Homo sapiens: one gene and its partners. The protein of the gene in region 4 purifies or fractionates together with the protein of the main gene of each other region. This does not show direct contact. Each region holds a gene or a part of one and is shown on either strand. Other genes may lie near its edges. The genes, in order: FARS2, NEMF, TOMM34 and ZNF490.

Evidence for each region.
Region 1: the proteins of ZNF490 (region 4) and FARS2 purify together in Homo sapiens (affinity purification with mass spectrometry; one large-scale study listed by BioGRID and IntAct). This does not show direct contact.
Region 2: the proteins of ZNF490 (region 4) and NEMF purify together in Homo sapiens (affinity purification with mass spectrometry; one large-scale study listed by BioGRID and IntAct). This does not show direct contact.
Region 3: the proteins of ZNF490 (region 4) and TOMM34 purify together in Homo sapiens (affinity purification with mass spectrometry; one large-scale study listed by BioGRID and IntAct). This does not show direct contact.

The regions. Positions count from the first base shown.
Region 1 is NC_000006.12:5,546,371-5,552,420, reverse strand, and holds part of FARS2 (phenylalanine--tRNA ligase, mitochondrial), read right to left. Parts: intron 1-6,050. UniProt on the Homo sapiens protein: Is responsible for the charging of tRNA(Phe) with phenylalanine in mitochondrial translation.
Region 2 is NC_000014.9:49,831,025-49,837,074, forward strand, and holds part of NEMF (ribosome quality control complex subunit NEMF), read right to left. Parts: intron 3,426-6,050; coding exon 3,339-3,425; intron 2,473-3,338; coding exon 2,399-2,472; intron 1,254-2,398; coding exon 1,183-1,253; intron 1,103-1,182; coding exon 1,027-1,102; intron 338-1,026; coding exon 275-337; intron 1-274. UniProt on the Homo sapiens protein: Key component of the ribosome quality control complex (RQC), a ribosome-associated complex that mediates the extraction of incompletely synthesized nascent chains from stalled ribosomes as well as their ubiquitin-mediated proteasomal degradation.
Region 3 is NC_000020.11:44,945,714-44,951,763, forward strand, and holds part of TOMM34 (mitochondrial import receptor subunit TOM34), read right to left. Parts: intron 3,165-6,050; coding exon 3,017-3,164; intron 1-3,016. UniProt on the Homo sapiens protein: Plays a role in the import of cytosolically synthesized preproteins into mitochondria. Binds the mature portion of precursor proteins. Interacts with cellular components, and possesses weak ATPase activity.
Region 4 is NC_000019.10:12,602,720-12,608,769, forward strand, and holds part of ZNF490 (zinc finger protein 490), read right to left. Parts: intron 1-6,050. UniProt on the Homo sapiens protein: May be involved in transcriptional regulation.

The DNA of each region.
Region 1 (6,050 bases), on a different chromosome or scaffold from region 4:
GAGAAATTTCTGCTTCTTGCACAATAGGATTCCCAAATGGCTTCCAGAGTTTCCTGGCCAGGGGATCCACAAGTTCATAGCTGCCAGCAGGCCTTTTCCCCATTTTCTCGCCCCACCTCTGAGATTGCAGAGAATTACAATCATTTTAAGTATTTTTCTCAAGGCAGGTCAACTGTAGTAATAAAACAAGTTTTCTGTCAACACAGTCCCCTCTTATATATGTAAATATGACTACTCTACATAAATAGTTAAAAATGGCTAACACTTTAATACTATCCTTATTTTTTATCCCTAAAGACAAACCACTCTATTATATCTGAAGGCAAGCAATCTGTCATGACGAAATAGGATATAAAATGGCACAAGTGATAGGCTAAATAATAGCCCCCTTCCACAGATATCCATCTCTTACTCCCTGGAACCTGAGAATACGTTATCCTACATTAAGATCTTTATAGATATAATTAAGGAAGGATGTTCAGATGAGGTGATTATCCTGAATATCCTGGTGGGTTCCATGTAATCAGAAGAGTCCTTCGAAGAGGGAGGCAAAAATTCAGAGAGAGGGTGAGGTGTTTACAGAGGGAAGTGGCAGGGCTTGGGGGAAGGCAACGTGATGCTGTCATAAGCTAAGAACTGAGGACTGTCTCTAGACGGGCAAAGGCAAGGGAACAGATTCTCCCCCAGAGCCTCCAGAAGGAACCAGCCCTGCTGACACCTTTACTTTAGGCCAATCAGGCTGATTCTGGATTTCTGTCCTCCAAAAATATAAGATAATAAGCTCATGTTGTTTTAAGCTTCTAAGTTTGTGGTAATTTATTATAGCAGCAACAAGAAACTAATACGTATTTTTGTATCTGGAAGTGAGGTATTGCTTGTAACAAATACATAAAAATGTGGAATTAGCCTTGGAATTGGTCAGTGGGTAGTAGATAACTTGGAGCACCATGATATTAAATGGCTATTTTGCCTTAAAGAGACTCTTGTAGAAATATGGATGTTATAGACTGTGACAGGCAAGGAAAAAGTGAGGAGCATGGTAGAGAAAACCTATACTGTCTGAGAATATCCAAATATTCATAAACATACTGGTGGTAGCAATACAGATGTCAAAAGCCCTGCTGGTGAGGGCTCGCAAGGAAATGAGGAACATGTTAGTGGAAGGTGGAGGAAAGGGGATCCTTGTTCATTCATAGCGGCAGAATTAGATGAATTGGAAGTGGAAAGCAAAACTTGTAAACAATGAACTTGGATATTTAGCTGAGGAAATTTCCAAGCAAACAGTGAAAATGCAGCCTGCTTTATTCTTGCAGGAGAAAACAGACAAATTAAGAGAACTGCTATGCAAAGAGGAGCAAGATTAGATAATTTGGGAAATTCTTAGCCTATCTATACTGAAAAAGACAAAAAGTTAGGGGTTTTGCTGAAAGAAAAGTGCTTTGGAGAGAAAGCCATGAGTGCAGCTATACAACCCTTTGTTAATGCCTCAGAAGTTTTGAAGGATCAGGGTATTTAGTCAAACAGAGGGCTCTTTGAAGAAATTAAGCATATGAGTCAAGGATCCCCTCAGGCGTCTCAGCAGAAGCCAGAAATAGCAATGAATTATTCAAGAAAGATCTGCAGAGGAGCCTCTTGTGTAATGGAATGAATCCCTATGATATAAATGGGAGAGCCACAAGGTTTTTGAGAATGATTTACCATCAGGAACACTGTCAGCTGGAATTGAGAGGGACAAAAGAACAAAAAGAGAAGGAAAGAAAGAAGGCTATTTGACTCCCCAAATTCTTCAGGCAAAAGCCAGGGTAATAAAACAACTCACCTGCATATACATGCCACCCTTAACAAAAAAGGAGGTAAGGCACAGTGGCTCATCATGCCTGTAACCCTGACACTGTGGGAGGCCAAGGCAGGCAGACTGCTTGAGCCCAGGAGTTGAAGAACAGCCTGGGCAACATGGCAAGACACCTTCTCTACTAAAAACACAAAAAATTGGCTGGGCGTGGTACCATGTGCTTGTAGTACCAGCTACTCGGGAGGCTGAGATGTAAGCCTGGGAGGTGGAGGTTGCAGTGAGCCGTGATGGCACCACTGGGCTCCAGCCTGATGAAAGAGCAAGACCTGGCCTCATAAATAAATAAAAGAACTTTAAAAAAGAAGGATATTTTAGAGGGTAGAAATACAGGTCAAATGGGTGAAGCCAAGGGCCACAGAGAATTATCCCCAGGCCTTGAAACCTAATGGCTGAATTTTGAAATAGCTTGGAACCAGTGATTCTTTTTCTTCTCCTTTCATTTTCTCCCTTTTTGAATGGAAATGTCTACAACTATTCTCCAATGCCTATCCTACTCATTGTATTTTGGGAGTAGGTACCTCGCTTCAGGTGCAAAAGTGGGGAGGAATTTTGCCCCAGGATGAATCATACCCAGAGTGTCACATAAACCAGCTTTAGATAATTAAATGATGAAATGGGACTTAGGGGCTGATGATATTTAGATGACATTTTGGATTTTGAGTTGATTTTGCAATGGGTTCAGAGTTTGTGGGACCTTGGGATAGGCTGAATGTATTTTACAAAAGACAGATGTGAATCTTTAGGGGTCAAAGGGAAGACTCTGGTAGACTGAAAAATGCCCCCAACCCTACCCAAAGATATCTACGTCCTAATCCCTGTAACCTAGAAATACATTACCTTATATTCAACAGGAAATTTACATTTCCTTTTGTATTAGAGAATTAATTTGTATTAAAGTATTAAAGGATTACTTTAAGAGAAGTATTTTGAGATGGGAAGATTATCCTGAATTACCCAGCAAGGCTTGATACAATCATAAGGATCCTTATAAGAAAGAAGCAAAGGTCAAAGAGAAGGCAATGTGACAAAAGATGAAGGAGAGAGAAAAGGCAACATGATGCATGGCTGTGATCCAAGGACTGAGGATGGCCTTTAAAAGCCGGAAAAGGTGACAGTTCACAAGGACAGAAAACCAAATACCGCATGTTCTCACTCATAGGTGGGAACTGAACCATGAGAACACCTGGACACAGGGCAGGGAACATCACACACCAGGGTCTGTCGTGGAGTGGGGGGAAGAGGGAGGGATAACATTAGGAGAAATACCTAATGTAAATGACGAGTTAATGGGTGCAGCAAACCAACATGGCACATGTATACATATGTAACAAACCTGCACGTTGTGCACATGTACCCTAGAACTTAAAGTATAATTAAAAAAAAAAAAAAGCCAGAAAAGTCAAGAAGGTGGATTCCCCCAAGAGCCTACAGAAGGAGTCAGCCCTGCTGACACCTTAACTTTAGCCCAGTTGGGTGGATTTTGGTTTTCTGACCTCTAGAACTGTAAAATAATAAATACATGTTGTTTTAAGCTACTAGATTTGTGGTAACTGGTTACCTAAGCAACAGGAAACTAACAAGAATAGATACTAATTATAAGTGAATACTTAGGTAATAGTATGATCTATAATCTATACTTCACAAAGTATTTTATGAACATATACTAAATATGAATGTACAAATCCTAATTGCCCCGTTAGAAGTTCTTAAGTTTGTTACACAAAGACAACTATAAAAATTATATATTAGTGCAGGTATGCATATATTGGCTTTCAAATTTGAAGGCAGAAAGGAGAAAAAAAATGACATTTAGTGCAAGAGATCAAGAGTCTATTTCTATGTGTCTCATAAAAAAAGATTGTTGTAAGTACACTTAAAATTGAATTTAAGCCACTTAATTCTGGTGGCAACTGTGTTTTTCATCTTTATTTGTCACACCATGGTGTTGAGCACACCATTCTACACGATGTTGGTGTTCTTTAAATGTTTGCTGATTAAATAACTGACAATATATTAAAAAGAGAATGAGAAAAAGTTACAGCCCTAGCCAGGTTTTATTGTAAATTAGATACAGCTTTATTTCAAATTAGTCTACAAGGAAATTGATGCTAAAATAAAACAGATAATTATTCAAGTAGAAGTTTTTAAAAGTCCTCATAAGGTAAAACCAAAAATATATGCATATATACATAGAAAGGTTCAAGATGCAGATGGGCACACACACAAAATCAGTGTGCTTCACTATAACAATAACAAAATACACTCATAAAAATCATACCTGTCCTTAAAGTTGATGATATGGTTTGGCTGTGTCCCCGCCCAAATCTCAACTTCAATTGTATCTCCCAGAATTCCCACATGTTGTGGGAGCAACTCAGGTGGAGGTAATGGAATCACAGGGGCCGGTCTTTCCTGTGCTATTCTCGTGATAGTGATTAAGTCTCACAAGATCTGATGGGTTTATCAGGGGTTTCTGATTTTGCTTCTTCATCATTTTCTCTTGCTGCTGCCATGTAAGAAGTGCCTTTCGCCCACCGCCATGATTCTGAGGCCTCCCCAGCCATGTGGAACTGTACGTCCAATTAAACCTCTTTTTCTTCCCAGTCTGGGGTATATCTTTATCAGCAGCATGAAAATGGACTAATACAGTTGAAAAGGTCTGTACACAAATATAAATAAGTATAACTCCAGAGAGAGATGAGCCCTTCTAGGGTAGACAGACACTGATGGCTGCTGTCGCCACTGGGGCGTGAGTAGGCAGAAGAGCTAGCCTGCTACTGGCAAAGACATTTTGTTGGAATAAGAAGAATGAGCCACACTTGCGTCAGCCAAGCATGGGCTGGCATGGCAGATTGGAAAATGGAGAAACAGAGCTAACCCTCACTGCCAGCCAATTCTCCTTCATAATATTTCTGCTTACAAACGCTGGTGGTGGAAGAAGCTGGTAAGTGGATGGAAAGCAGAAAGAGATCCTGTGATCTCACATGGTTAGATCCCAAACTCTGCTGCAGGGCTAGATCTCACCATCAAGAGGAAAGCAGATGTGAAATTCAACTCAACTCCTGATTAGAACAAAAAGATCTGGCCTAGTCACCTTAGCAGCCAGAAGGTAGAAAGCATAAGACTTTCTGGGGATAAATTTTATCTACCTCAGTCTTTGTCCATTCAAACACAATTAAAAAAAAAACAAAAAGACAAGTGAAGCAGCAGGAAATATGTAAGCCATGATTAGGAAGGGAAAACAACCACAACAAAAGAACACTAGATAATCAAATGGTTGGAATTAACAGACAAGTACTTTAAAATAACCATTATGAGGCCGGGCGCAGTGGTTCATACCTGTAATCCCAGCACTTCGGGAGGCCAAGATGGGCAGATCACCTGAGGTCAGGAGTTTGAGACCAGCCTGGCCAACATGGTGAAACCCTGTATCTACTAAAAATACAAAAGTTAGCCAGGCATGGCAGTGTATGCCTGTAATCCCAGCTACTCGGGAGGCTGAGGTGGGAGAATTGCTTGAATCCAGGAGGCAGAGGTTGCAGTGAGCTGAGATCATGCCATTGCACTCCAGCCTGGGGAACAGAGCAAGTCTCCGTCTCAAAATAAATAAATAAAATAAAATAAAATAAAATAAAATAACCATTATGAATATGTGAAAGAATTTAAGGAAGAATGGATGAAATGGATGAAAAAATCAAGCATTTCAGTAGATAAATGAAAACTCTAAAAAGGAAGCAAATGCAAATTCTAGAATTGATAAATACAGTTATCTGGGGAATGATTAATTCACTGGATGGGCTTAATGGTTACTTGGACAAAACAGGAAAAAAAAAAAGATGAGCAACCCAAAGAGAAGACAATAAAAATTATCAAAAATAAAGCACACAGGAAAAGAAAATCGTTAATTAAAAAAACCTTTCATCAGAGTTCTATGGCATAGGATCAAATGGTCTAACATATATGCAGCTTCATTCTGAAAAATGAATGGAGTAGAATTGTTGGAAAAGATACTAGATGAGGGCTGGGCGCAGTGGCTCACTCCTGTAATCCCAGCACTTCGGGAGGCCAAGGCGGGCGAATCACAAGGTCAGGAGTTTGAGACCAGCCTGGCCAACATGGTGAAACCCCGTCTCTACTAAAAATACACAAAATTAGCTGGGCGTAGTGGTGGGCGCCTGTAATCCCAGCTGCTCAGGAG
Region 2 (6,050 bases), on a different chromosome or scaffold from region 4:
TTAAGGTGTAAATAACAGGCCTCACGTTCCCACCGTATTTTCCTTTTTTTACAGAATATCTGAAATACTCATGAAACAAATGAGGACATACTTTTCAACAATAAAATCCCCCATGGACCTTCTTCATAAACCTTTATCATAAATAAAGAGGCAGGTCAGAGAGTTCCCATACTACTTCTTACACTCTTTCTGAAAGGCTACCCTTTCCTATATCATCTACCCATCAAGCCGCTAAAGACTAGCTGGTTTAATATGTGTTTTTAATAATACATACCTGTTGTAAAGCTTTTAAGTCAATTTTCTGGCCTTCTATCTTGGAATAAAATTCATCCACCGCCTTATTAAAAAAACAAACAACTAGTTGGAAAAAAAAGCACAGTCTCTACTTCAACTTGCATACACAGAATTTTATTTTTTTTTTCTTTTTTTTTGAGACAGAGTCTCACTCTGTTGCCCAGGCGGGACTGCAGTGGCGCGATCTAGGCTCACTGCAACTTCCACCTCCGAGGTTCAAGTGATTCTCCTGCCTCAGCCTCTCAAACAGCTGGGACTACAGGTGCACCCCACCACACACCGCTAATTTTTGTAGTTTTTCAGAGACAGGGTTTCACTGTGTTGGCCAGACTGGTCTTGAACTCCTGACCTCAACTGATCTGCCTGCCTTGGCCTCCCAAAATGCTGAGATTATAGGCATGAGCCAGCAAGCCCAGCTGCATACACAGAATTTTAGATTCCATTGTGTTTCATAACACCACTCAAAGAACTTGAACAGATTTCCGGTAAATGTATTATATGGCTAAACAGTATCAAGAATCAAATGAAGTTCAAACCTCTGGTCCTTCATCCTGAAATAAAGTGGCAACAATTATTTCCAACAGCTGTATCTGTGACGACACTGATCTTTAATGCCCAGATTCACAGTGAATGTAAAGCAAGTATAGTTTCAGTTTCTCAATAGAAGCAAGTTGATATCAACAGCTCATATCATGCTAACTAACTGGTAAAGGAACAGAACGGAAAACCCACCTTGTCAAATGATTCAAATTCTATATATGGACATTGTGAATGTTGAGAAAACAAGAAAGGATGAAATTCCTCATACCTGTAAAACATATTTATTATATCACATTCGAGAACATTAACAAACATCCAAAGCAAATTGACCCATGCCTATATGCTTACGTCAGTATGTCTTCAACTGGTTTATCTGCTTCCAAGCTTGGTTTTATTTCTCTTTTCTGAATGATATATCCCTACAAAAATGCAACATTAAAATCATTCCTATTCATAATTAACAAAGATTTACTTCTTTTTTTTTTTTTTGATACAGTCGCGCTCGCTCCATCACCCAGGCTGGAGTGCAGTGGTATATTCTCGGCTCACTGCAACCTCTGCCTCCCGGGTTCAAGCAATTCTCATGCCTCAGCCTCCCAAGTAGCTGGGATTACAGGTGTGTGCCACCATACCTGGCTAATTTTTGTATTTTTAGTAGAGACAGGGGTTTTGCCATGATGGCCAGGGTGGTGTCGAACTCTTGGTCTCAAGTGATCCGCCCACCTTGGCCTCCAAAAGTGCTGAGATCACAGGTGTGAGCCACTGCACCTAAAAATTTAGTTTCTGTGACTGATATTAATTTGCACCTAATCCAAAGGTTTACTTTCTATGACTGATATTAATTTTAATTTTCTATAAATAGTTATGCTTTGAAAAGGGAAGAAAAACACTCATAAGCTACTAGGTAATTCAAAAAATATTTAATGGTTGGGAGCTGTAAATCACAACATTTTTGAAAAGGGCTGACAAATGAAAATGTGCTTCTCTATCTGAAACTAAAGAAATAACTGTAAATTCCTCAACTTTTCTGAAGAGCCGATACTAACCTGACATTGTACTTTCTATAAAAGATAGGGAACAGAAAAAAACTTATAAACCAACAAAAACTTTTAAAACACTATCCTGGGCCGGGTGCAGTGGCCCATGTCTATAATCCCAGCACTTTGGGAGGCCAAGGCAGGCGGATCACTTGAGGTCAGGAGTTCGAGACCAGCCTGGCCAACACGGTGAAACCTCATCTCTACTGAAAATATAAAAACTGTCCAGGCATGGTGGCACGTGCCTGTAGTCCCAGCTACTCGGGAGGCTGAGACAGGAGAATCACTTCAACCAGGGAAGCAGAGGTTGCAATGAGCCAAGATCATGCCACTGCACTCCAGCCTGGGTAACAGAGCAAGACTGTCTCAAAAAACAAAACAAAAAAACTATCCTGGAATAAGCATATTACAGATAACAATTTTCCAAATTAAAATAAAATGTATATATAATGATCCTTTAATGAACGTTTAATTTCTGAAAACCCAAATAAATCACAACAATATATAGTAAGTATACATGGTGCTACCTTCCCACTGAAGTTGGATGTTGTTTTCATATAGTCTTCTGCTTTCTGCAGAGAAACAAGTACTTTTTCAATATCTAATGGTGGGGGAAAAAAAGGAAAAAAGGAGTGCCAATCAAGTGTCAATTAACCGTGGCTAAACAACTATGTAGAAAAACAGGAAAGTGCTTACAAAATAATGTTGCGTTCAAGAAAATTAGAGATAGTGATTTCATGTTTATAACCAGTATATGTGGATATATGGTTTCATTTTGAACAGCCTGTTGTCCAAGTAGCTTTTATTGAATCATCCACCTTTCCCTCCATGACCTGAAAGGAACTTTGTTCATAAACTAAATTCCCATATTATTTCAAATTATTTTTGGAATCTTTATGCTATTCCTTCTCCAAAAACTTACAGTTTTAATTACTATAGCTTCATATTTTAATCTGTGAAGGGTTACACAGACAGTAATAAATCATTACTAGTATTTTCCAGAGTTATCCTGAACATTTTCACATGCTTTTGCTCCATATAAACATCAGAGTCATTTTATAAAAACAAACAAAAACAAAACACCACCACCAGCACCTGTTGTCATTTTATGAGTGCACTGATTTAGTATATTGCAGAAACTAAAACATTCACTAAAATCTCATTCAATTTTTTTTTTTGAGAGTGGTGATACTTGTTTTTGTGGGGTTTTTTGAGATGGGGGTCTCACTCTGTTGCTCAGGCTGGAGTGCAGCTGTGCAGTCACCACCCACTGCAGCCTCAAACACCCAGGCTTAAGTGATCCTCCCACCTTAGCCTCCCAAAGTGCTGGGATTGCAGGCATGAGCCAGTGTGCCTGGTCAAATGTTTTTCATTCTAGAACCACCTGCTCCCTTATTACTTTCCCAGAAAAAATTTTCATAGTTTAAAAAAAATGAAATAAATGAAAAATGTACCATGCAGACATACCTTTAGTTTCAAGTTTTTCATCCACTTTGACATTACCCGAGAATCCATTTTCTAAAAGACAGTGTTCAATGAGAGCTGGTCCATAGGCTATAAATGCAGAGGATATTACTTTTAGTATTTTCCTATAAATTCTTTTTTGTTTTTGTTTTTTGAGATGGAGTTTTACCCGTCGCCCAGGCCGGAGTGCAATGGTGCAATCTTGGCTCACTGCAACCTCTGCCTCCCACCTCCTGCCTCAGCCTCCTGAGTAGCTGGGATCACAAGCACCCACCACCATGCCCAGCTAATTTTTGTATTTTTAGTAGGGACAAGGTTTCACCATGTTGTCCAGGCTGGTCTCGAACTCCTAACCTCAGGTGATCCACTCACCTCAACCTCCAAAAGTGCTCAGATTACAGGTGTGGGCCACCATGACCTAGCCTAAAATTTAACATTCAAAATATAGCACAAATTTATTTCCCAATATCAATGATCTACTCAATAACAGTGGCTGGTGAAAACAATAAGTTTACTTATTTTGAAGTGTTACTTAGAAATGACAATTCTAGTTCTTAGACTGGGTGCGGTGGCTCATGCCTATAATCCCGGCACTTTGGGAGGCCAAGGCAGGCAGATCACCTGAGGTCGGGAGTTGGAGACCAGCCTGACCAACATGGAGAAACCCCATCTCTACTAAGAATACAATAAATTAGCCAGGCGTGGTGGCACATGCCTGTAATCCCAGCTACTCAGGAGGCTGAGGCAGGAGAATCACTTGAACCCGGGAGGCGGAGGCTGTGGCGAGCCAAGATCGTGCCATTGCACTGCAGCCTGGGCAACAAGAGTGAAACTCCGTCCCCCGCCCCACCCCGCAACCAAAAAAAAAAAAAAAAATGACAATTCTAGTCCTTAAAGAAATTTGAAACTACAATTAACTTACAAAAGTCAGTGCAAGTTATAGGAATTTAATGGGCTTCAACCACAATGAGGATTTATCCCTGGAATGCAAGGTTGGTTTGGCAACCAAAAATTGGTTAATATAATACTCCATATTGATAAAATAAAGGAAAAGAGCCATATATCATTTCAATAGATGCAGAAAAAGCATTTGACAAAATTCAACACTAATTCCTAATAAAAACTCTCAATAAACTAGGAATAGAGGGAGCATTCTCAACCTTATAAGGACACCTATGAAAAACCTACAGCTAACATGATAATTACTGGTGAAGGACTGAATATTATCCCCCTAAGATCAGGAACAAGGAAAGAATATTCAGTCTCACACTGCTATTCAACATTGTACTGGAAGCTATAGCTAGCACAATAAGGCAAATTAATTAATAGCATTCAGATTCTAAAGGAAGAAGTAAAGCATCCTTATTCACAGATGACATGATCCTGTACCTTAAAAAATCCTAAGGAACCCACAAAAAAACCCTACTAGAATGAATAAACAAGTTTATCAGGTTTGCAGGATACAAAAACCAATATATAGAAATCAATTGTATTTCTATGCAAAAATGAAATTAAGAAAATTCCACTGACAATAGCATCAAAAAGAATAGAATGTTTAGGAATAAATCTAACTGAGAGAAATTAAAGATCTAAATAAATAGTCAGACATTCTCTCTTCATAGAAGACTCAATGTAGTTAAAACGGCAATTCTCCCCAAACTGATCCACAGACTTAATGTAATCCTTACCAGGCCAGGCAGTGGCTCACAGCTGTAATTGAGACCAGCCTGGCCAAGAAGGTGAAACCCCATCTCTACTAAAAACACAAAACTTAGTGGGTGTAGTGGCATACACTTGTAATCCCAGCTACGTGGGAGGCTGAGGCAAGACAATCACTTGAACCCAGGAAATGGAGGTTGCAGTGAGCCGAGATCATGCCACTGCACTCCAGCCTGGGCAACAGAATGAGATTGTCTCAAATAATAGTAATAATGTAATCCTTATCAAAATCCTATGAGGCTTTTTTCATAGAAAGTAACAAGTCAACTCTAAATTTTATAAGGAAATGCTGGCCGAGCGCAGTTGCTCACGCCTGTAATCCCAGCACTTTGGGAGGCTGAGGCGGGCAGACTGCTTGAGTTCAGGAGTTCGAGACCAACCTGGACAACATGGTAAAACCCTGTCTCTACCAAAAAATAGAAAAATTAGCCAGGAGTTCATCCCTGTAGTCCCAGCTACTTGTGGGGCTGAGGCAGGAGATGGCCTGAACCTGGGAGGTGGAAGCTGCAGTGAGCAGTGTTCGTGGCACCGCACTTCAGCCTGGGCAACAGAGCGAGACCCTTGGGAAATGCAGAAGATCTTTTGAAATGCCAAATGCCAAAACTCTTTTGAAAAAAAAAAAGTGAACAGTTAAGAGGACATGTAAGTTGAGTATCCCTTATGTGATGTGTTGGGATAGAAGTGTTTGAGATTTCAGATTTTTTCACATTTTGGAATATCTGCATATACATAATGAGATACCTTGGGGATGGAACCCAAATCTAAACACAAAATTCATTTATGACTTTACGCAATATAGCCTGGAGGTGATTTTATACAATATTTTAAATAATTCTGTATAGCTGTCACATAAGGTCAGTGTGGAATTTTCCACCTGTGGCATCACGTCTGTGCTCAAAAAGTTTCAGACTTCAGGCCAGGCACGGTGCCTCACACCTGTAATCCCAGCACTTTGGGAGGCCAAGGCAGGTGGATCACGAGGTCAAGAGATCAAGA
Region 3 (6,050 bases), on a different chromosome or scaffold from region 4:
TCTTGCTGACCCTGCATGAGAGACCCCAAATGAGAACTGCCCTTCCCTAATTCCTGACTCCACAAATTACAAGCAAAATAAAATGGTTGTTGTAAATCACCAAGTTTTAGAATAGTAGCCCGTTTTAAACTTTGAACACAGAAGAATTCCTTTTTTTTTTTGGAGACAGGGTCTCACTCTGTCACCCAGGCTGGAGTGCAGTGGCATGATAACAGCTCACTGCAACCTCCGCCTCCTGGGTTCAAGCGATTCTCCTACTTCAGCCTCCCGAGTAGCTGGGATTACAGGTGCATGCCACCATGCCCAGCTAACTTTTGTATTTTTTGGTAGAGATGGGGTTTCACCATGTTGGCCAGCCTGGTCTCAAACTCCTAACCTCAAGCAATCTGCCCACCTCAGCCTCCCAAAGTGCTGGGATTACAGGCATGAGCCACCTCTAAACATAGAGGAATTCTAAGGAAATTAAAGTTTCCTCCCAATGGGCTTGGCAATTTAAAGAAATAGCCAAGTGTCTGGGAAGCAGAGGAACCACCGTGTATCGTGACTTCAGAATAGAAATGTGATTAATAGGGTCATGTGAGACTTCTAAAGACTATATTTAAGATGAACAAAATGCATAACTTCAGGCAATAAAATAAACCCCCTTGACTTTTGGTAAATGAAGTAACTGTATCCAGTCAGAAGGGTTTTAATTACAAAGGGGTTGGGAAATAACACAAGTGAGTGAAAGGGAAATAAGCTTTGGAGTCACAAAGATCTGGCTTAAATCTCAGCCACCATGTACTAGTTGTTTAACTTTGTGGTCACTAATTCATCTTTCTGAGCCTGATTAGGTAACACAGGACAATGATCTAAGCTGAAGAACTGTTGTGAGTACAAGTGAGATTCTTATGACAGCTGTTTCAGGGCTGGCAAGTTGTAGGTGCTATGCACTCAGATGTCACCTGCACAAAGGGAGCCAAAGTAAGCCAAAGCCTGGGCATTGTGTCATTCAGATGGGCGTACATGAGGTGGAGCATTAGACTATGTCCAAGACGTTCCAGGACATGATAAAATGTTAGCCACAATGGCTGAAAGTTGTTTTGTCATTAGTCCTCTAGATTAAATTATAAATCCAATGCAATCACAACCAAAAGCTGTCCAACAAGACATTTTTTGGAATTTGCCAAAATGATCCGAAGCTTTAGCTAGAAGAACAAACATGGGAAAATACTAGGAATGCTCTGATTAAGAAGAATGAAGAAAAGACCAGCCCTATAAGATATTATAAAGCAAAAGCAATTAAAACAGTGTGGCACAGACACCTGCATGAAGAACAGTATCTAAACAAGACAAAACACAGCTCCAAATATGGTAATGATCCAGAAAAATGAGTTAATGGAGGTGTCCAGCAGCATAAGGTAAGCAATGTGAAAGAGGGTCCAGAGATAGAGGAGTTAGAAGATGCCACACAAATATGGAACAAATAGGCTGCAGGCTTCTTTTTCAAATTAGCCTGGCAAATTGTGGCCCCTCTGGTCCAATCAGCAATAAAACCACATAAAACCACAGGTGCAAAATTCCAAAATATAAGCTTTAAAACTACAAGTTCTCTTTCCAACTCATTGGGCAGCAAAACCTGATCTGAACTGACATGAAGCTATTTAGTTTCTCTATTCCACCCCATGTGAACATGGAATTTTCAAGTTTCACTGGCAGAAATACTAATAATTAACTTCTGCAAGCTGCCCCAGACACTGCTGGGGTGTTACATAATTCAGACCATATTACCTCACTAAAATGGAAAACACTTCTTTTTTTTTTGTGACAGAGTCTCGCTCTGTCACCCAGGCTGGAGTGCAGTGGCACAATCTTGGCTCACTGTAACCTCTGCCTCCTGGGTTCAAGTGATTCTCCTGCCTCAGCCTCCTGAGTAGCTGAGATCACAGGCATGTGCCACAGCGCCCAGCTGATTTTTTGTATTTTTAGTAGAGATGGGGTTTTGCCGTGTTGGCCAGGCTGGTCTCAAACTCCTGACCTCAAGTGATCCTCCCGGAGCCTCAGCCTCCCAAAGTGTTGGGATTACAGGCATTGAGCCACCGTGGCTGGAAAACACATTTTATCTCAAGAGTTTGGAATAAGGAACAATGTGTCTATATTAGATCCAAGATTTTTGAACTAGAGAGTGATATGTGTATGCTGGTAGGGAAGGATAAACAGATTTCTAACATTTTATAATGTTTTATACTAAGCATTTGGTTTTGATATGGTCTCTTGCTGAATGTTTCAAGCTTCTGAGAGTAAAAGTAACAGGAAGATCTTGTTGAAGTCAGATTCCAATTCTTGTGCCAACATTTACTGGCTGGCTGAGTTTAAAGCAAAACCCTTCCTTCTCTGAGCCTCAATTTTCTAAACACTAAAACAGAAAGACCACCTATACGAGCATTGTTGGAGAACAATCACTCCTACACAGTGAAGGGACCGCACCCTGGCTCCCAGGTTCTCAGTCAGTGGTCACTGACGGCAGCTCCTGGTGCAGGACTTTCTACAGGCCCACAAGTCTAACCTTTCAGGCTAGACTGTACCCATCCTTCCTGCTCTCATGCCAGGCAATGGTTACTTCACATTTTGGCTTCTGGGCCAGTACTCTCAGACAGAAATGGTGCCAGAATTTCTAACAGGAGGGTCTTGGAGAAGGGTAGGGAGCAGCGTAGCGTGGTGGGGTGGACAGGCTAAGAGACTTGTGTTAGGGTTGTGTTTGCAGAGCAGGCACACTGCTTTTAGTTACATTGCATGCTTATGAAAATTCTGGGGACAGGGGCCAACAAAGCCCAGGCTACCATTTGGCATCCCTCAGTTTCTACCCTTTTGAGAGAATGAATGCCACTGGTCATGGCTAGCTCACAACGTGGATGCATGTTTTCAGCCATAACATACTTGACTAAATGCTAGGGATGAAGGGCCCATTGCAGTCCAAGAGAAGACTATGGAACAAATGTCCTGAAATGCCCCAGGCCAGCAGCTGTATAGGAGATACCTGTTGCTGTACGTGGCAGATTCCAGGTTACTACACAAGAGGCTTTCACTGTACTTCTCAATAGCTTTCTTATGGTTTCCCTTCTTTACAAGCTCATTGCCTTCTTCCTTCAGAACTCTGGCTTTCTCCACATCCCCAGCAGAAGGCACTAGATACAAATTCAGAAGAGGAAAAAAACCATGGAGCAGCACCCAACTGAGATCAGTGAGGTCTCTTCAGCATCGTCCCTTCCAAACTGACTACAATCCTCTCTCCCAGAGATTTCCTCCCCTGCTGTAAATCATCCTTCCTGATTAATGACTTCCCCCAATTAATAGCTTCTGGGCAATTCAACAGTTTTTCATCAAGAAGTTGGGGAATCCTGATATAAAAACATTTTTGCATGCACATAAAAATATATAAATGATAAAAAGCAACCCAGGTTCTAGCCTTGGCACTGCCTCTTGGTAGCTGGAAGATCTTGTGTGACCTACCTAACTTTTGGACCTCAATTTCCTCACCAATAAAATAGGGCAATACTAATTCCACAGATGGCTATTTTCAGGGTCAAATCTGAGAGTATGTAAGAAAGTACGGAACACACTATAAACTTAAAGCAGGACAATAAGTAAATAAATACTAATAAACAAATATCTGGTAAAGAAAAGGTATAGCTTCTGGGCTATGAGAAAAGGGGAGAAGAGCCTGCTATTCCTCATTTCTGGTTTGGGCTGAGCCTGTGAGTATCCTCCCTCATCTAACACATGCAGCTCTGCTCCAGCCTTCAAGGAGAGGAAGCAGAGGGAACATGGTGAAATCCAAGCTGCTCAACTTGGTGTTCAGGCCCTTCACTGCTTGGCCCCAATTAATTATTCCAGCCTCAGCTCCATATCATCTGCTTTTCAAAAATTTTTAAAACTATCTTTATAAAATACTAAATATTTATGACCAGGGTAAGATTATAGGTTTACACCCTGAATTCATTGCCTGGTTTAAGAAAAAGAACATAACTAGGACCTTTGAAGTCCTGGGGGACCTTCCTCAATTCAATCCACTGCTGGAGGAAACTATTATCCCCAATTCTGTGCTTCTTCCCCACCTTTTTAAACAGTATAACTATATACAACAGTACCCACAGATCATTTGCTGTTTACTTTGTTTTTGAACTTCATACAGAAGAATAAGTCTGTGTATTCTTTTATGACTTGGTTTTTCTTTTTCCCCTTAATGTTATATTTCTGAGATTCATCTGTGTTGATGCACAGACCTGCAGCTCCTTCATTTTCATTGCTGCAATACCAAAGCTGAATTGTCCATTCTCCCATTTATGGAGATCTGGGTTATCTCCAGTTGTTTTTTGCTATTACAGTCTTCTACGAACATTTGTGGGTACATCTCCCTGTGCACATGCACACAGGTTTCTCTTGAAGTAGGGCTTCAGCTTCACTGGCACCCTGCAACACACCACTCTGCAGTCATCCTTATTCCTACTGTTCCCCCCATGCACTTTCATTCTCCAACTCTCTCCACTGTCTCTGCCAAGGATTCTCCTTCCTTCCCACCTGATGACCTTCTTCAAGGTCCAGCTCAAGGCTCCACCTCCATTGCCACCCCTTCTGAGTCTTTCCCCGACTCCCTCATGCACTTAAGTCAGTTTCTATCCTGAAGTCCTCAAACACTAAGACTCTAAAGCACATGTTCCTCCTCCTTGTGTTTTAAGACACTGTTTACATGTCTCAGTCCCTCAACTGAGGGAGAGTTCCCTGAGGGCCAAGACTGTCCTCTGTGTCACACTGCTTAGCATACACATGGCTTGGAACACATGGCTCAGTGACCCTGAAAGAATGAAATCAATGGTAGGTGCACTGATTTAAAGAATGAAATCAATGGTAGGTGCACTGATTGAAAGAATGAAATCAATGGCACTGATGCCATCAGGTTCATTAGCACCGCACATTTTCATCCTAGAGAAGAGTGGGGAACACTTACCAGGCTCCCACAAACCAGAGTGAATGCTACCCATGACCAGAGAGGCATTCTCCTGTAGAAGGTGAGTAACTCTTGTCCTCCCCTAACACCTATAGGTCACTTACACATGGCAGGGCTCCATCTCTGATCCCTTCTGCACCTCTAGCCTGAATCCCTAGCTTGCTGGGCTGGGACCATTCCCCTGGAGCATTAAAAGAGCTTCCTAGTGCCTGACAAATGGCCTCTTCATTTCATACAGTTGAGGTGAGGAATCTCCTGTTTTTGGCTGCTTGGATCTCCTTTCTCTTCTTCATGCTTCTCCAGGGATTCACACAGTGTACATGCTCCTGGGAAGCATCACCCTCTAGTTCTGGAGGTGGGGCAGGTGCCTCAGGGTGACCTAATCACAAAATCTCATCCGCCGGTTATGGTGTGTACTTCAGGGAATGGCCTGTGACCATGAAGACCAGAATAGATTGAGAAAATGATTGAGAAAATATGTGAGCTAGAGTTTTTTGGGGGAAAAAAATCCTATCTTTTCCTAGTGAGCTATCAGAGAAAGACTTTCTTTCTCTGGGTCATGAGGCATGGGGTATGGATGTGAGGCCGGGAACTGCTATAGCTATTTTGCTACTAGGAGGGAAGCTTGCCAAAGACAAAGCTGACGCACAACAGAAAATAAAGCTGTGATAAGTACAGAAAAATGGAGTTAGTCTGTTAATATACTGAGCTGCTGGAGCAAACCTTGCCTGAATTCTCTCGGATTTTTCAGTTTTATGAGCCAATAAATTCCCTATACTATGTTTACCATGTTGAGCTTTCTGTTTTTGCAACCAAAAACATCCTAAGTACTACATCCCAAGTGCTACCAGAGGAAAGAGAAGGGAACTCACACTGCATGCCTATGTGCCAGGCTGGGAGTTTTACATGTCTTATGTCATTCAGTCCTCATGGTTGTGAGGAAGACTTTATCATCACCCTCACTATACAGCTGAGAAAACAGTCTCTAAGAGGTGAAGACTTGTATTTTGTTTTATACTTTGTTCCTAAGATTATTTTTATAACTCAGCTAAACAATGCCAATTTT
Region 4 (6,050 bases):
GCTCAGATGATTCTCTCACCTCAGCCTCCCGAGAAGCTGGGCCTACAGGTGCGCACCACCACGCCGGGCTAGTTTTTTGTATTTTTAGTAGAAACAAGGTTTCGCCATGTTGGCCAGGCTGGTCTCAAACTCCTGGGCTCATGCAATCCACCTGCCTCAGCCTCCCAGAGTGCTGGGATTACAGGTGTGAGCCACCACACCTGGCCCCATCATGGGTTTTTCTTATGTGCAGAGTACTTATTCAAATCCACAGTGATTTCCCAGTTGACACACAGACAAGAACTATGGATTCTTAGAGAATATCCAAGTTATAATTGAATCAAACTGCAGAGAGAGGGTATCATTTTGAGTACCACCCCCCAGTTTGGTGGAAAAGAAAGTTGTGATATTGTGAAATATATAATTTGGGTTTTGTCCAGGGTTCCTGGCTCACAGTTGCTAAAAACCTTGTAATTTCCTAAGCGACTAGAGCAATTGGAGTATCTTTTGTTAAAATATTTGGGCTGCCTGTAATCCCACCATGTTGGGAGGCTGAGGCAGGCAGGATGCTTGAGCCCAGGAGTTCAAGACCAGCCTGGGCAACACAGTGAGATCCTATCTCTACAAAAAATACAAAAATTGGCCAGGCATAGGGGTGTGTGCCTATAGTCTCAGCTACTTGAGAGGTTGAGGTGGGAGGGTCACCTGAGCTCAGGGAAGTCAAGGCTGCAGTGAGCTGTGATGACACCACTGCACTCCAGCCTAGGTGACAGAGTAAGACTCTGTCTCAAAAAACAAACAACAAAAAAAAGGCTGGGCGCTGGGGCTCACATCTGTAATCCCAGTACTTTGGGAGGCCAAGGTAGGTGGATGCTTGAGCTCAGGTGTTTGAGACCAGTCTGGGCAACATGGCGAAAACCCATCTCTACTAAAAATAGAAAAAAATAGCCAGATGTGGTGGCGTGCACCTGTAGTCCCAGCTACTCAGGAGGCTGTGGTGGGATCATTGCTTGAACCCGGGGGTGGAGGCTGCATTGAGCCAAGATTGTGCCACTGTCACTGGGTGACAGAGTGAAGGAGACCCTATCTCAAAAAAAAAAAAAAATGGCCTTTTGTATTCAGTTCTTAAAATAGCTCTAGAAGAGTTCCAGAGTGACAGGTGGAAGAAATGTCTTTAGTTATTCATAACCATCCCCTTTCCACCACAGCTAAGTTTATGTTAATGGGGTGATTTTTGGAAAGCTCCTACAAACCACAGGATGTGAGGCTAGTTGCCAGGGAACCAACCATGTGACTGGAGCTTTGAAACTTTCAGCTCTGTCCCCACCTCCAGGGAGGGAAGAGAAAACTGAAGGTTGAGTTGATCACCCATAGTGAATGATGTGATTAATCATGTCACCATAATAAAGCCACCATAAAAACCCAAAAACACGGCTCAGAGAGCCTTCTGGTTGGTAAATAAGAACATAACCATATGCCTGGAGGTATCTCTTCATCTGGCTGTTCATTCGTATCATTTAAAATATCCTTTGTAGGGCCAGGTGTGGTGGCTCACGCCTGTAATCCCAGCACTTTGGGAGGCTGAGGCAGGTGGATCACTTGAGGTCAGGAGTTCAAGACCAGCTTGACCAACATGATGAAACCCCATCTCTACTTAAAATACAAAAATTAGGCCAGGTGCAGTGGCTCACACCTATAATCCCAGCACTTTGGGAGGACAAGGTGGGCGGATCATGAGGTCAGGAGTTCGAGACCAGCCTGGCCAGCATGGTGAAACCCTGCCTCTACTAAAAACATAGACACACAGAAAAAAAATTAGCTGGGCATGGTGGCATGGGCCTGTAATCCAGCTACTTGAGAGACTGAGGTAGGAGAATCACTTGACCCTGGTAGGCAGAGGCTGCAGTGAGCCAAGATTGTGCCACTGCACTCCAGCCTGGGCAAAAGAGTGAGACTCTATCTCAAAAAAAAAAAAATTAGCCAGGCGTGGTGGTGGGCGCCTGTAATCCCAGCTACTTGGGAAGCTGAGGCAGGAGAATTGCTTGAACCTGGGAGGCAGAGGTTGCAGTGAGCTGAGATCGCGCCATTGCACTCCAGCCTGGGCGACAAGAGCAAAACTCCGTCTCAAAAAAAAAATAATAATAATAATAAATAAAATAAAATATCCTTTGTAGGCTGGGTGCAGTGGTTCACACCTGTAATGCCAGCACTTTGGGAGGCCAAGGCAGATGGATCACTTGAGGTCAGGAGTTCGAGACCAGCCTGGCCAACATGGTGAAACCCCTTCTCTACTAAAAATACAAAAATAGCTGGGCGTGGTGGAGGATGCCTGTCATTCCAGCTACTCGGGAGGCTGAAACACGAGAATCATTTGAACCCTGGAGATGGAGGTTGCAGTGAGCCAAGATCGTGCTGCTACACTCCAGCCTGGCAACAGAGTGAGACCCTGTCTCAAAATAAAGAGTAAACAAATAAATAAATAATAAAATATCCTTTGTAAGACTAGGCACAGTGACTCACTCCTATAATCTCAGTGCTTTGAGAGGAGCGAGGTGGGAGGATCTCTTGAGACCTGGAGGTTGAGACTAGCCTGGACAACAGAGCGAGACCCTAACTTTACAAAAAATAAATAATTAGTTGAGTGTGGTGGCACATGCCTATATTCCTAGCTACTTGCGGGGCTGATGAGGGAGGATCGCTTGATCCCAAGAGTTGAAGGCTGCAATGAGCTATGATCCTGCCACTGCACTCCAGCCTGGGAGACAGAGTGAAACCCTGCTCTATTAAAAAAAAAAAAAACACTTTGTAATAAATGGGTGAATGTAAGTAAAGTGTTTCTGTGAGTTCTGTAGGCTGCTACAGCAAATTAATCAAACCCAAAGAGTGGGTCATGAAAACCCTGATTTACAGCTTGTTGGTCAGAAGCATAGGTCACATCCTGGGACTTACAACTGACATTTGCAGTGAGGGGCATTCTTGTGAGCCGTTAGCTTTTGGTATTGGACTCCGTCTCCAGGTAGATACTGTCACAATTAAATTGAATTATATAGCACACCCAGCTGGTGTCTGCTTGAGAAGTGGTTATTGGTGGACCAGAAGTGAAGTATTCTGTTAAATATTTTGTTAATGGTTTTCCTATCCCTTTAAGAAAAGTGTATTTGAGACCCTCGAATAGGATTTTTTTTTAATTTAATTTTTTTTTTTGAGACAGAGTTTTGCTCTTGTTGCCCAGGCTGGCGTGCAATGATCTTGGCTCACCGCAACCTCCACCTCCCGGGTTCAAGCAATTATCCTGCCTCAGCCTCCCAAGTAGCTGGGATTACAGGCATGTGCCACCACGTCCCGCTAATTTTGTATTTTTAGTAGAAACAGGGTTTCTCCATGTTGGTCAGGCTGGTCTCAAACTCCCGACCTCAGGTGATCCACCCACCTCGGCCTCCCAAAGTGCAGGGATTACAGGCATGAGCCACCGCGCCTGGCCTAAAATAGGATTTTTTTTTTTTTTCATTTTAGAGACAGAGACTCACTCTATTGCCCAAGCTGGAGTGCAGTGGCACAATCATAGGTCATTGTAGCCTCCAACTCTTGGACTCAAGGGATCTCTGCTATGGGACTACAGGCACATGCCACCACCCTGGGTAATTCTTTTTTTTTTTTTTTTTTTGAGACAGGGTCTCTATCTGTTGCCCAGGCTAGAGTGCAGTGGCATGATCTCAGCTCACTGCAACCTCTGCCTCCTGAGTTCAAGCAATTCTTCTGCCTCAGCCTGCTGAGTAGCTGGGACTACAGGTGTGCACCACCATGCCCCGCTAATTTTTTGTATTTTAGTAGAGATGCGGTTTCGCCATGTTGGCCAGGCTGGTCTTGAACTCCTGACCTCAAGTGATTTACCCACCTCAGCCTCCCAAAGTGCTAGGATTACAGGTGTGAGCCACTGCACCTGGCCAATTTTTTTTATTTTTATAGAGACAGGATTTCACTCTGTTGCCCAGGCTTTGATGTCCTTTTATAAAAGGAATCACTGGAAGATTTTTATTTTAATGATCAGCAAAGGCCTAAAAGTCCATGACCATTCACAAGTATCATTTCCATATGGTAGATTTCCAGCACATGTTAGGAAAGAAAAAAAATGAACAGCTTTGTGTTTTACTAAAGAACAAATAAAATCCCATTTTTATTCAATATTTCAATAATTTATGTTTGCACATCACTGTGGTGACTAATGTGATTTCATAATCATTAGTATTTCATTTGATTAGCCCCACCCAATCATACCTCCCATCTTGCAAATGAAAAAAGTTAAGTATGGAGAGCACAAAGTCTTGTCTAAACTCATATGGCTCATAAGTAATAATGAAATTGGCCAGGTGTGGTAGCTCACGCCTACCATCCCAACACTGGGAGGCTGATGTGGGAGGATCACTTGAGTCCAGGAGTTCAAGATCAGCCTGGGCAACATAGCAGGACCCTGTCTCTAAAATTTAAAAAATTTAAATTTTTTTTTTTTTTTGAGGTGGAGTCTCACTCTGTCACCCAGGCTAGAGTGCAGTGGCATGATCTCGGCTCACTGCAACCTCCACCTTCTGGGTTCAAGCAATTCTCCTGCCTCAGCCTCCCAAATAGCTGGGATTACAGATGTGCACAACCACACCTGGCTAAAAAAAGAATTTTTTTAAAATTAGCCAAGCGTGGTGGCGCACACCTAGTCCTAGTTCCAGCTACTAGTCCCAGCTACTAGGGAGCCTGTGAAGTTGAGTCTACAGTGAGCTGTGATCTTGCCACTGCACTCCAGCCTGGGTGACAGAACATAATAGTAATAGTAATACAATATAATAACAGTAATAATAATGGAACTTCTCAGTATTAAAGTCCAAATGTGTGCCACCACATATACTGAGCACTGTCAAAAACTGAAAACTCAGGCCAGGCATAGTGACTCACACCTGTAATCCCTGCACTTTGGGAGGTTGAGGCAGGAGAATTGCTTGAAGCCAGGAGCTTGAGACCAGCCTGGGCAACACAGCAAGATCCCTGTCTCAAAAAAAAAAAAAAGGAACAAACAAGAACAGCATAGCATCTGCAGACAGAGAAGCAGCAGCAAATCAGTGGAGGCCAGGATTGATAGCTTCCCCATTTCGGGTTTTGGTAGACAGGAAGGACGGTGACCCAGACACTGAAAAATACCAGCATGCTGAACTTAAGGATTGGCTTATTGAAAATGTCAGGCAAGTTCCTGGCCAGAAAAGCCACATTGAAGCTCCCATGAGCCAAGGAACCCAGGATTCACAGAACAGTCAATAACCAAATCGTGGTTTTATGTGAAGATGACATATTCAGGCTCAGATTATGTATCCACATGCATGAAGGCTGTAGTCATTCCCCATGAAATTCCTCCCACTTCAGCATCCCAAAGTGTTGGGATTACAGAGTCACTTAGATCAGGGAACTGATAGCAATGACAAAATTAGGTACCCCCGACACTAACCCGTGCCTTATCCGTCTCTTGCATGTTTACCTTGAAGGTCAGAACTGCAGTGATCGTTTTGTCCAAACTATGCAAACAAGTAAACATGACTCCAAATTTGTGGTTTTTGTGTTTTTTTGAGACAGGGTCTCGCTCTGTTGCCCAGGCTAGAGTGCAGTGGCACCATCACAGGTCACCGCAGCCTCAGGTTGAAGCCATCCTCCCGTCTCAGCCTCCCGAGGACCTGGGACTATGCCACCATGCCCAGCTAATTTTTTATCTTTATTTATTTATGTATTTATTTATTTATTTATTTATTTATTTTTGAGACAGAGTTTCACTCTGTTGCCCAGGCTGGAGTACAGTGGCGCGATCTCAGCTCACTGCAACCTCCTCCTCCCAGATTCAAGTGATTCTCATGCCTCAGCCACCCAAGTAGCTGAGATTACAGGTGTGCCTCCCACCATGCCCAGCTAACTTAAAAAATATTTTTAATAGAGATGAGGTTTCAGCATGTTGGCCAGGTTGGAAACCAACTCCTGGCCTCAAGTGATCCACCCACCTTGCCTCCCAAAGTGCTGAGATTACAGGCATGAGCTACTACACC